Linked DNA regions of Homo sapiens. Changing the gene in region 1 together with any one later gene gives a genetic interaction. Each region holds a gene or a part of one and is shown on either strand. Other genes may lie near its edges.

What was found.
Region 2: changes in MMGT1 (region 1) and TRPC6 together harm fitness less than expected from each alone (positive genetic interaction), as found in Homo sapiens cells (one large-scale study listed by BioGRID).

Annotation. Positions count from the first base shown.
Region 1 is NC_000023.11:135,959,378-135,965,273, forward strand, and holds the end of MMGT1 (ER membrane protein complex subunit 5), read right to left. Parts: intron 5,807-5,896; coding exon 5,647-5,806; 3' UTR 1,211-5,646; downstream 1-1,210. UniProt on the Homo sapiens protein: Part of the endoplasmic reticulum membrane protein complex (EMC) that enables the energy-independent insertion into endoplasmic reticulum membranes of newly synthesized membrane proteins.
Region 2 is NC_000011.10:101,502,660-101,508,154, reverse strand, and holds part of TRPC6 (short transient receptor potential channel 6), read left to right. Parts: intron 1-3,356; coding exon 3,357-4,131; intron 4,132-5,495. UniProt on the Homo sapiens protein: Forms a receptor-activated non-selective calcium permeant cation channel. Probably is operated by a phosphatidylinositol second messenger system activated by receptor tyrosine kinases or G-protein coupled receptors.

The DNA.
Region 1 (5,896 bases):
GCCGAGACAGGTGGATCACCTGAGGTCAGGAGTTTGAGACCAACCTGACCAACATAGAGAAACCCCGTCTCTACTAAAAATACAAAATTAACCAGGCGTGGTGGTGCATGCCTGTACTCCCAGCTACTCGGGTGGCTGAGGCAGGAGAATCGCTTGAACCTGGGAGGCAGAGGTTGCAGTGGGCCGAGATCACGCCATTGCATTCCAGTAATACCAATACTACTACTACTAATAATAATGTATTGACATTGGCTCATTGTGTCAAATGCCTCATGCTAACATGTTAATAGAGGAAATTGAGTATGGAGTATGTGGGAACTCTCTATACTATCTTCCCATTTTCTCCATAAATCTAAAACAGTTCTAAGAAAATAAAGTTTGTCTAGAGAAAATACCAGCTTAAAAAAGAGGTAGACAGACTTGAAAAGAGACTACAGAGACACACTAATAATGTAATTTGTGAACCTTGGTGGGGACAGCTATAAAAGCTATTTAGGGGATACATGGGGAAATATGAATATGAAACTTTGGGTGGTTGATCCATTTTTTTACCTGTGATAATGGAATTGTGGTTAAATGGGAGAATCTCCTCCCTCTTGCAGGAAAGGCATGCTGACATATTAAGTGATGTCCTGAAGTGTGATGATGAAGTTTGCAACTTAGCTCGAATGAATCAGGAGGGGAGGAAAAGCACATCTGGAGAGAGCAAAAGCAACAGTGGTAAAATGTTAAAAATGGTGAACCTAAATGAAAAGTATACTGGTGTCCATCCTATTTTCTTTCACATTTTCTGTAGATTTGAAATTTTTCAAAATTAAATTTCAGGGAAAATATAATTTTAGATTTGGACAAAATGATATGAAAGCTTATCTGAAAAAAATAAACATGCAGTAACTAGAAAAAATTCCTAAAAATGAGGTATGGACTAGCAATACCCAAGACAAAAATATATAACAATTTAAAATAATTAAAAGACTCGTATTTTTTGCAACAGACTACAGAACCCAGAAGCATATCTAACCAGACATATGGAAATTTGATGTATGAATGAGGATGATGGTTTTTCCAATCAGTGTTGAAAAAGTTAATAAATGGGGTTAGAATAGATTGCTATTGGAGAGAAAAATGTTGAATCCTCTCCTCACTCTTACTACCTAGACAAATTCCAAATGAATCAAAGATTTAAAAGTTGAAAAAAAAACCTTTAAAATACTGGAAAAATACATTAAATTTATTCTTAAATGCAAAGGTGGCCTTTCTAAGCAAGGCAAAATCTCAGAAGCTGTAAAGACTAAGTTTAACTACATAAATAAAACTTAGGAAAATATTATTAAACATGACAATGGACCAATTTTCTTAGCTTACAAAAAGCTCATACAAATCAATAAAACACATACCACCTAATAGAAAACAGAACATGACTACACATTTCACAGGAAATATCAGTAATCAATAAACATGAAAATGTGTTCCATCTCCTTCATTAAAATGTACCAGACCTTCATTAAAATGCATTAGAACTTCATTAAAACGCAAGATACCATTTATTCACTTTCACATGATCAGACTTCAAAAGTTTAGTACCCAGTATTGGCATGGGTTTGGTAAATAATCATTCTCATACATTATATGTGGAAGCATACTGGGCAAAGATTTCTAGAGGACAATTTGGCAGTAACTACTGAACTGAAAATAAAAAATACCCTCTGATCCAGCAATTGTATTGCTAGGTACACTGTAGAATAAAAACTCATTATATGTACAAGTATATTCACCACAATGTGATTTAATATTGGAAACAACCTAAAGAGCCTATCAGTGTTTGAACATTTGTAACACATTCAAACATTAGAATACCACACAGCCGCTAAAAATAATGAGGTATTTTTATATATACTGATACAGAAAGATCTCATAAAACACAGGTAGCAAAAAAAGCAAGGTACAGAAGAGTATATATAGTCTGATTCTATTAATGTGAAATTTTTAAAGTACAAATTTGCTGATAAAAAATAAAAAATTGTTTTCCTGTGAGTACAAGACACTTGAAACTGGTTACTTTTGGAGAGGAGTATTAGGGTAGGAGGGAAGGGACCAAGTTTTTATACCTTTCTGTACCATCTGATCTTTTCGCCATGTGCATACATCATCTTTCTTGCCCCCACTCCCCTTTCTAAGAACACTTAATTAACAGGTTATTTTGAGATATTCCTAGGTAGGTTTGAATACCGGTGGTGTTATTTTTCAAAATACTGTAGATAAGTGCCAAGTTTTGCAATTTAGAACTTCCCCTTGGATTTTCATTAAACTTTATATTTGCTTCCTTGATGCTTTAATCATAACGATTTCCTATTAAGTATAAAGTGACACTTTCAATGGGAGTTTGGCTTTATAACAAATTTGTGATGGAATCATTAGACACTGCTGCTCAAGAACCCATTTTTACACCCCAAAGGGCATTTGATGATTTATAAACATCATCAAGATTATACATTCTATTTTGACTATTAAAAACATAAAACTGCAGTAAGATTTTACATGTACAATTAAATTATCCATTGAATTCAGTAAAACAGCATCACAGTAGAAAAATACAGTCATAAAATTAGCTCTTACATTTTTCTGGGGACAGAAAAGCAGAAGAAATGAGATTAAAAGTCCAAAAAAAAAAAGCCCAAAAAACACTACCAAAAACAGGGTGAGACAATCATTTATTTATTGGACAGGGCAAGGTCATTTAAAGATTGGAAACATATCCCAAAAACACGTGTTTAGTTTGGTGTTACAGGCATTGATGCTCACAACAAACAACATTATTCAATACATCATGTAAACAGGCCACATACAACCAGGAAGATGCTGTCAAGCCACTGAGAAGCCACAATGCTTAGAAAACAATCATTAGGGAGTTACAGAGAATAATCACCTCCAACTCATTGATATGCATATTCTGCGGCTGCACAGTATTTGGCTGGTTCCCTGGTTATTAAGTGAGTCGTTCCGTATTTTAAAGAGCCTTGATTGGTACACACTTCTGAATATCACTGAAATCAGTCAAGCAAAGGCTTAACTAGCTCACATCATATTTTTGAACTACCCTAGGCAATAATTGACTGTCTCACAGTACTGTAGATAAAATTCTGTACTTAGCATATTTAGCAGTGTTACAACGCATCCAAATCACCTTTAAGTCCTATGGTACATACTTGAAAAAGACAGCAGAAACTCACTGGAGTAAATGAAAAAAGAAATTTGGGGAGCTCACCTGGCCTGAGGTATACAAGCTGCTAGCAAAGATAGACACACGTGAAAACCACTTTGTCAATTATTTGCCAAGTCATTTGGCCTGATTTTTGGCCTGATTTTTAGCCTGATTTTTAGCAGGACTCTTCCCGACTGAGGAGGCAAAGATTTCAACATCCATTCTAGAGACTAGCCACAGTATTATAAGTAGTAATATATCATAAATGCTTGGTTATGAGGAAAAACTACTCAGCATAAGATTCACGGAGAAAAACCTGTTAGGTATCTGGCCCTCTTGCCTGAAATCTATTGATTTTACCAACCACTCCCTTTCACAGCAATAAGAGTTCTCAAGATGAGAAGAATTTTCTCACTCCATATAGAAAATCATATTTGGGAAGCCAGTCCCAAAAGACCGAATATTGTAGAATTCCATTTATATGAAATGACCAGAATAAGCAAATCTACAGAGAGAGAAATAGATTAGTGGTTGCCAGGGGCTCGGGGATGGGGTGGGCACTGGGAGAAAATGAGAGGTGACTGCTCAAGGGTACAGGGTTTCTTTTTGGGGTAACGAAATGTTCTAAAATTGACTGTGGTCACGGTTACACAACTTTGTGAATACACTAAAAACCACTAAATTGTACCCTTAAAATAAGTGAATTGTAAGGTATGTGAATTATATCTCAATAATGTTACAAACATATTAAGAAACGAAGACATACCCCAAAGAGAAGGAAACAAGAGGCTCTTCCAAACCAAATCGTACCAGAAGAAAACAGTAGCCAAGTCTGATGGAAGGAGCTTGTTTCTTGCATGCTATTTTATCATCATCACTTTAACCCGATTTCACATTTTTAATTCATTTCTAAATTATTTTAGGTTATCGGCAGATTTCTAACTTTGTTCTCATTAGAGAGCAGAGTCAGTGTTCCGCAGACAGACTGGGCTGGCGTAACAAACCAAAACTAAACAACAATAAAAACCCAATGAAAAATAATCTCATGCTTTGGGGCTATGTGTTACCAGTCAGAAGAGAAGAGCTGATGTCCATTTCTAAAGGAAAATAAAATGCCTACAAGTACAATGGCATCTTATGACTCATGCCTAAAGCACATTTCCTTTTCAAACCTGCATACAGTTATTCCCTTTTTACACCTATACAATTCAACAAAAGCAATGTTTTTATACCTGTACAATCCAAAAAAAGCAACGTTCTCTACAAAGAAATGTTGAGCTTCCTACAGCTCTCTAGCTCAAAGAGCTAGCCAATTTCCTTAAAAGTAAAATTACTGTTTCTAAAAATATCAACTCTGTATCCTCATCCTCACTTTCAGCAACATACAGTGAAGATGGAAAACTTGAAGACTGCTATAAACCAGAAACTACAAAACAATTTCTTAAATGACCTGATTTTCCTAAAAACCTTAAAAACATTAGTTCCAAATACTGAGAATATATTTGGCCCAATTCCTTTGAACTCTGTCTTTAGATTAATGACGAGTTTCCTTTATTTCACTTATTCACTAGTTTAGTATGAAATAAACAGAGTTTGAATCAGTTAAACTGGCTAATGACAATTTTCCTCAATGATTTTTCTTCTGCATAGGCATGATAATGAAATCACAAAAGGTCTTCAACTAGTCTTCAACTATTCTTACACTATATAATCAATTAGGGAAATTTTTACAGACAAATGAAGAGAACACAAGTAGCTTTACAGTAAGTTGAGCCTGTTACATATATTTGTTCTGACAAAGAATTTCTGACACAAAAATTGCTCACTGCACACAGAATCTCAGAGAAATGATGAAACAAGACAGCTGATGGTAGAAGGTATATGGGAGCAGGGTAGGGTGAAAAGTCACAAATAAATTAAAAACTGGCAAGTACTTCTGAAGCAGAGCCACTTTTTAGGGGACACAAGAAAAACTGTTAAATCACCATTTTGGTCTCATCAGGGAAGTCCATTTGTTAAGAATTGAAGACCATTTTACTATAATTCATGCTGCAAAACACAGCAGTCACACAGTATTTCCAAAAGGATTCCAAAAATTGTAGTGCAAAAGAAAAGAAATCTAAAAAAATAAATAATCACAAAAACCACCAACATTTTTCAAGGAAATGTGTTCAAAACAGTGGCTTTTACAAAAGATGTGGATTTGTTTTAAATGAAAAAAAAAATAATTCCTATATGAAATACCAAAGACTCATTTCACATATAACTTACACTGCATTAATGATTGGATTAACAGTATATAAACAAGGGCCATGGTTTTTTTTACTAAAGTAGGTCTGAAAGATCAATATAAATACTAATGGGGGCAGGGAGGAGTGTTTTATACCCCAAACTCCAATATTCCAGCTCTGTGTCCTGTCCTATTATTATAATTTGTAAAAATCTTAACGACGCAGTGATTCGAGTTTTCGTAACTTCAATGATGTGTTAGAGGACAATGCATCTTGGTTTGAAGAATTTGCTGTATCCGAAGGCCGGAAAAGTACTCGACCACGATGATTAAATACATAAAAGGATGGGTGATTCCTTAACGTATCAAATGTCCTTGAAAGAAGAAAAAAGCATCAATTTTAGATAAACCTTTATAAAACCCTACTTGAAAATAAGTAGGCTTCTAACGAATTATCAATTTAC
Region 2 (5,495 bases), on another chromosome or scaffold:
CTTTAACATCCCCAGAGAGAGAAGAAAAAATGTTTGTGCCTTTAAAAGCAGAAAAGTCTTATAAAAAGTAACATTTGAAAATAAAGGGTGTTTTTGAAAATTAAAAATATAATAGCAATTTTCATAGATATAATCTAAAGTTGAAGAAATTTCCCAGAATATAATAAATAATATTGAACATAAATAATTGGAAATAGAAAAGATAAGAAAATTAAAGGACAATTACAGGATGTCCAACATCAAAAAGAAGGAGTTCCAGAAATGGTACATTGAAAGCAGAAAACAAAATGATCAGATAAATAGGGCAAGACTATTTCTAAGAAAAGGACACTTTTTATTCCAGATTAAATGGGCAGCACTGTGGAGAAGAGACTCCCTTCAATAAACAACCATGTAATTTTAGGACACCAGAGACAAAGACAATATCCAGAATCAAAATTGCATCATGCTTCTCAATAGTAGCCACAAAACTATAATTTATTAGAGCAAGGCCTCCAAAATTATCCTCAACCTTGAATTCTCTACCCAGCCAAACTATCAGTTAAGTTTAGAGGTAGGACAAAGTCAGTTTTAGATGTACACGTTCTTTAAAAATTCACCTATGCATGCTTTATTAGACAGCTGTTGGAAGATGTGCTGTACTAGAACAAAGAAGTCAACTCAGATAAAAGAAGATCTGGGATACAGAAAACAAGGACCCCAATACAAAAGCAAAGTGAAGAGAATCCTTGGAATGATACCAAAGGAAGATTCAAAGAGAACATACATGCATCAAGTCTAGACAGCAACTGCTGTCTAGATTTTCCAAAATTGAAAAAAAAAAATACCCACTTAATATGTAGAATGTATTAAAATAAGACTTATATTGATGGAGAAGAGAGTTTGATTGAATTAGTCATATGTATATAGAGCACTGAGAAAATGAAGAGAATTTTTATCTATTAGGTTTAAGGTTATAGGGAAGCTGTACCTGAAAAGACACTATAGTATACCACTTAGCTATGATTAGCACTTGCATTGTCATGTTTTAAACAGTAAATAGTTATCTAAAAAAAAGTCATGATATAACAATTCTGGAATGATAAGGGACCATGAAGGGGGTCTGTGTGTGTGTGTGTGTGTGTGTGTGTGTGTGTGTGTGTGTGTGTTAGAGAGAGAGAGAGATACGTGAAGGTATGGTGTAATGGGAAGTCCATAGGTAATGCCAAACCTGAAAAATCAAGAAGTAACAATATAACCAAAGCTATGTGGTTATAACATTTAAAATTATAAAATAACCAGCTAAAATAGTTAAATTGAAATGTATCACCTCTGGAGATCAAGACATAGAATAAACTAAAATATGCACATGTATAACTTTACTAAAATTAAAAATGGAATTAAAAACAAAGTAATAGCTATGGGACAAAATAGTTACAGATGCTATTCTCTTATAATAAAAGTTGCATATGTATTATCTAATGACCCATTTTAGAAATTATTAGGTTGTATAACTTGATATCGGCCCTTCATGTCATTTTCGAAACTTACAAAGTTGTCTCTTTGAAAAAAACATCAGTTTGGTTGATTTTGAATAGGACTTGGATAGTTAAAGGAATCACTGTTGAATGAAAATCTATGAAAAATATTTGTCAATATGGTGGTATACTCTTCAAGCTCCTCCAAGAAGCAAAATCTGTTTGTGAGTTGCTGAAACTTTACTATCTTCCTTTCTATTCCTGTCCATCACACTGCCACAGACAGCACTGTCTGGAGATGTGGAATCAAGACTGATAAAGGCCAGTAGGGAAAGCAACTAAGATTCTCCAGACCTGAACATATTGGAGGGAAAGATAGCTTATGAGGCCCTTGGATCTTTTTATTGTCCTCTTTATACTGGGAAGTTTGTGACCGTTTTTAAAGAGGGATGCCTCTTTAGCCTCCCCTATAACCTGGCCCTGTTCCAGTTCTGCAAAAACATGCCTTCTTTGGGTTCAGTTAGTGATACTGGTAAGAGTTGAACCTCTAATTGTAATGAGATCCCTTGAAGCTCAAAAGACCTTAAGACACGAAGTTATGAATTAATAACGAAAAAATCTTCATTATAGCATTTTGATCAGAGGAAGAATCACAGCCCCCTTCCTTTTTTTTTTTTTTTTTCTTTGATATAGGATCTTGTTCTATCACCCAGGCTGGAGTGCAGAGGCATAGTCATGGCTCTCTGCAGCCTTGATCTCCTGGGTTCAATTGATACTCTACCTCAGCCTCCTGAGTAGCTGGGACTACAGGCATGTGCCACCATGCACCACTAATTTTTCTATTATTTGCAGAGATGGGGTTTTGCCATGTTGTCCAAGCTAGTCTTGACTTCCTGGGCAAGTGATTCGCCCACCTTGGCCCTGCAAGGTCCTGGGATTATAGGCGTGAGCCATAGCACCCGGCTCACTTTCCCTTCTTATCACAGATTGAAGGACTACGTTGAAGGCTGGCCACTGCTCTGACCACTGCCTGCACCATAGAAGTGTTTTTTCCTACCTGACAACTTGATTATAATTTTCTCCAGTCTGCAGTGATTTTTAGGACAGCAGAGTTCAAGCATTTATTGCCCATATTAATGAAACCTATACTCTAACATCTAGCCGATACCTCTGCTAGAGAAAACTTTCTACCTATACCTAACCCCTGTCTCACCCTCCTGAAGTACACTCTCACCTGACTTCTACTTATCCTTCCATTTTCAGCTTGTCATTTTCTCTCAGAATCTGGGATAGATGCCCCATTATAGGCTTATCATTATAATTAAGCAGCTGATAACAAAGCAGTATGCTGATTGCCCATCTCTCTCTTTGGTCTATAAGACTTGTAGAGGCAGGAAAAAGCATCTATTTGTTTTTTCACTATTGGCCTTCTTGGACCGAATATAGTTCCTAGACCTGGCATCAGAGGGACTCAATAAATATTTGTTAACTTGAGTGGATTTGCTATTGTCTCTACTTCTTAAAATGTAGTCTTATATTCTCTATCACATTGTGACTGCATATGGATAAGAGGGTATGGATATAGACATCTTTCCTAAGTCTATACCATCTATATAGTACATTAGTTTCTATCTGAATGGCACAGAGTAATTATGGCAATTGCTAGTCTCCACCCCAAATGGGAATGTTAAAATCTGCAAAGTGCTTGGCTTTCTTAGACGTGAAGTTCTTGGAATCCATTAACAAATAAATGCATCTTCATTTTATAATATAGTAGGTCTAGAGATGATGAGACAACATCTAATATACTTGAGGATTGTATTAGATGAATGGCAAGTCATTTGGCACACTAAAATGCTCTTAATGTGATTTGTTTACAATCTTTCTGTTTTATTGCAGCCGGGGATCTGACAACAGACTGGCTCACCGGCGGCAGACAGTTCTCCGTGAGAAGGGGAGAAGGTTAGCTAATCGAGGACCAGCATACATGTTTAGTGATCGCTCCACAAGCCTATCTATAGAGGAGGAACGCTTTTTGGATGCAGCTGAATATGGTAACATCCCAGTGGTGCGGAAGATGTTAGAAGAATGCCACTCACTCAACGTTAACTGTGTGGATTACATGGGCCAGAATGCCCTACAGTTGGCAGTGGCCAATGAGCATCTGGAAATTACAGAACTTCTTCTCAAGAAAGAAAACCTCTCTCGAGTTGGGGATGCTTTGCTTCTAGCTATTAGTAAAGGTTATGTTCGGATTGTGGAAGCAATTCTCAGTCATCCGGCTTTTGCTGAAGGCAAGAGGTTAGCAACCAGCCCTAGCCAGTCTGAACTCCAGCAAGATGATTTTTATGCCTATGATGAAGATGGGACACGGTTCTCCCATGATGTGACTCCAATCATTCTGGCTGCCCACTGCCAGGAATATGAAATTGTGCATACCCTCCTGCGGAAGGGTGCTAGGATTGAACGGCCTCATGATTATTTCTGCAAGTGCAATGACTGCAACCAGAAACAGAAGCATGACTCGTTTAGCCACTCCAGATCTAGGATTAATGCCTATAAAGGCCTGGCAAGTCCGGCTTACCTGTCATTGTCTAGTGAAGATCCAGTCATGACGGCTTTAGAACTTAGCAATGAACTGGCAGTTCTGGCCAATATTGAGAAAGAGTTCAAGGTAGGTCACTAACAATAGAGACTTCACCCTCCACAAGCCAGAGTCAAGGTGTATTTACCAGCTTCCCCCATGTGCTCAGCACTGTGCTAGTTACTGTGGACACTAGGTCATTTTATAAGTTTATTCAACAAGCTCTTTATTATAATCATTGTAGCAAAAGTTGTGATCGCTACCATTTAGTGATGCTCTACTGTCTGCCAGACATTTTGCATTTATTATATCTAATCTTTATCCGTTCCCCTTGAGAAGCTATTATTAGTTCCTGTCTAGATGGGTAAATGAAGGCATAGAAAGTTTCGCTAATGCCCAATATCAACAAATGGGAAATAACACAGCTGGGTTCAGAATCCAGGTATACTGCACTCTGAAAAGCCCAGGCTTTTTCCTCCCACGAAACACTATTTCCATGTTCAGAGCACAGTGATAGATGCTGTTGAGGTCAGAAAGAAGAATAAGCTTAAGGAAGTCACAGTTGACTAGAGAGACAAATGCACACATGAATAAAAAATAAACAAAACTACCAGGTAGAGGTAAAAGCAACATACTGTAGAAGTTCAGAGAAAACAATATTTAATTCCTGTTAGGCTGCAGGGAAGTATGTGTAAGATGGCATTTCAGCTGTATATGGTGGAACAAGTAGGATTTTGGAAGGCAGAGAATGAGGGAAAAGATATTTTAGGCCAAGGTGTACCAGCAAAAACAAAACATGATAGATATGAAATAGTAGGAAATTAGAACTTTGACCAGTCAATCTCTTAATAAGAGGTATCTGGAGAGATAAATGGTGTCAGATGCTGCCATTAACCATAAGGGCTGTGCTCCACGTGGAGAGGATGAAAGCTTGCATCCCTAGCTAAGATCTTCCCCACAGGTATCTCTAAACTCCCTCTACCTGTTTGAGGTAGTTCTGATCCTCTAATGCCCATCACCTTTTACCATGGATTATTGTTATTTATGATGCACTTATCTCCTTTACTAAATAATGCAGGTTGGAAACAGGTTTGATTCATCAAGTACAATGTTTTACAGAAGTGAATATTGGTTTCATTTTTTTTCTATATGCTGAGAGAATGCTTGTTTCTATACTCTTTTCTTGAGGGATTACAGCCCAGTCTTTCCTGGGCAGCTTCTTGGTGCCACTGTCACTGATGTTTCACCCCAGTATCAGATGTCATGTGTCTATCTATCCTCAGGTCCAGTCTATCCAGAAAGGCTAGAAGGAGGAAAATGGTTACTGAAACGCTCAGTATGTGCTTGGCTCCCAAGGTAGAGGAAGGTGCTTTTCCTCCAGCTACCTGGCAGCTAACAGGGCAAGACAAGTAAATGGTCCTTCTAACCCTGTCTCAGATTCTTACCTACTTTTC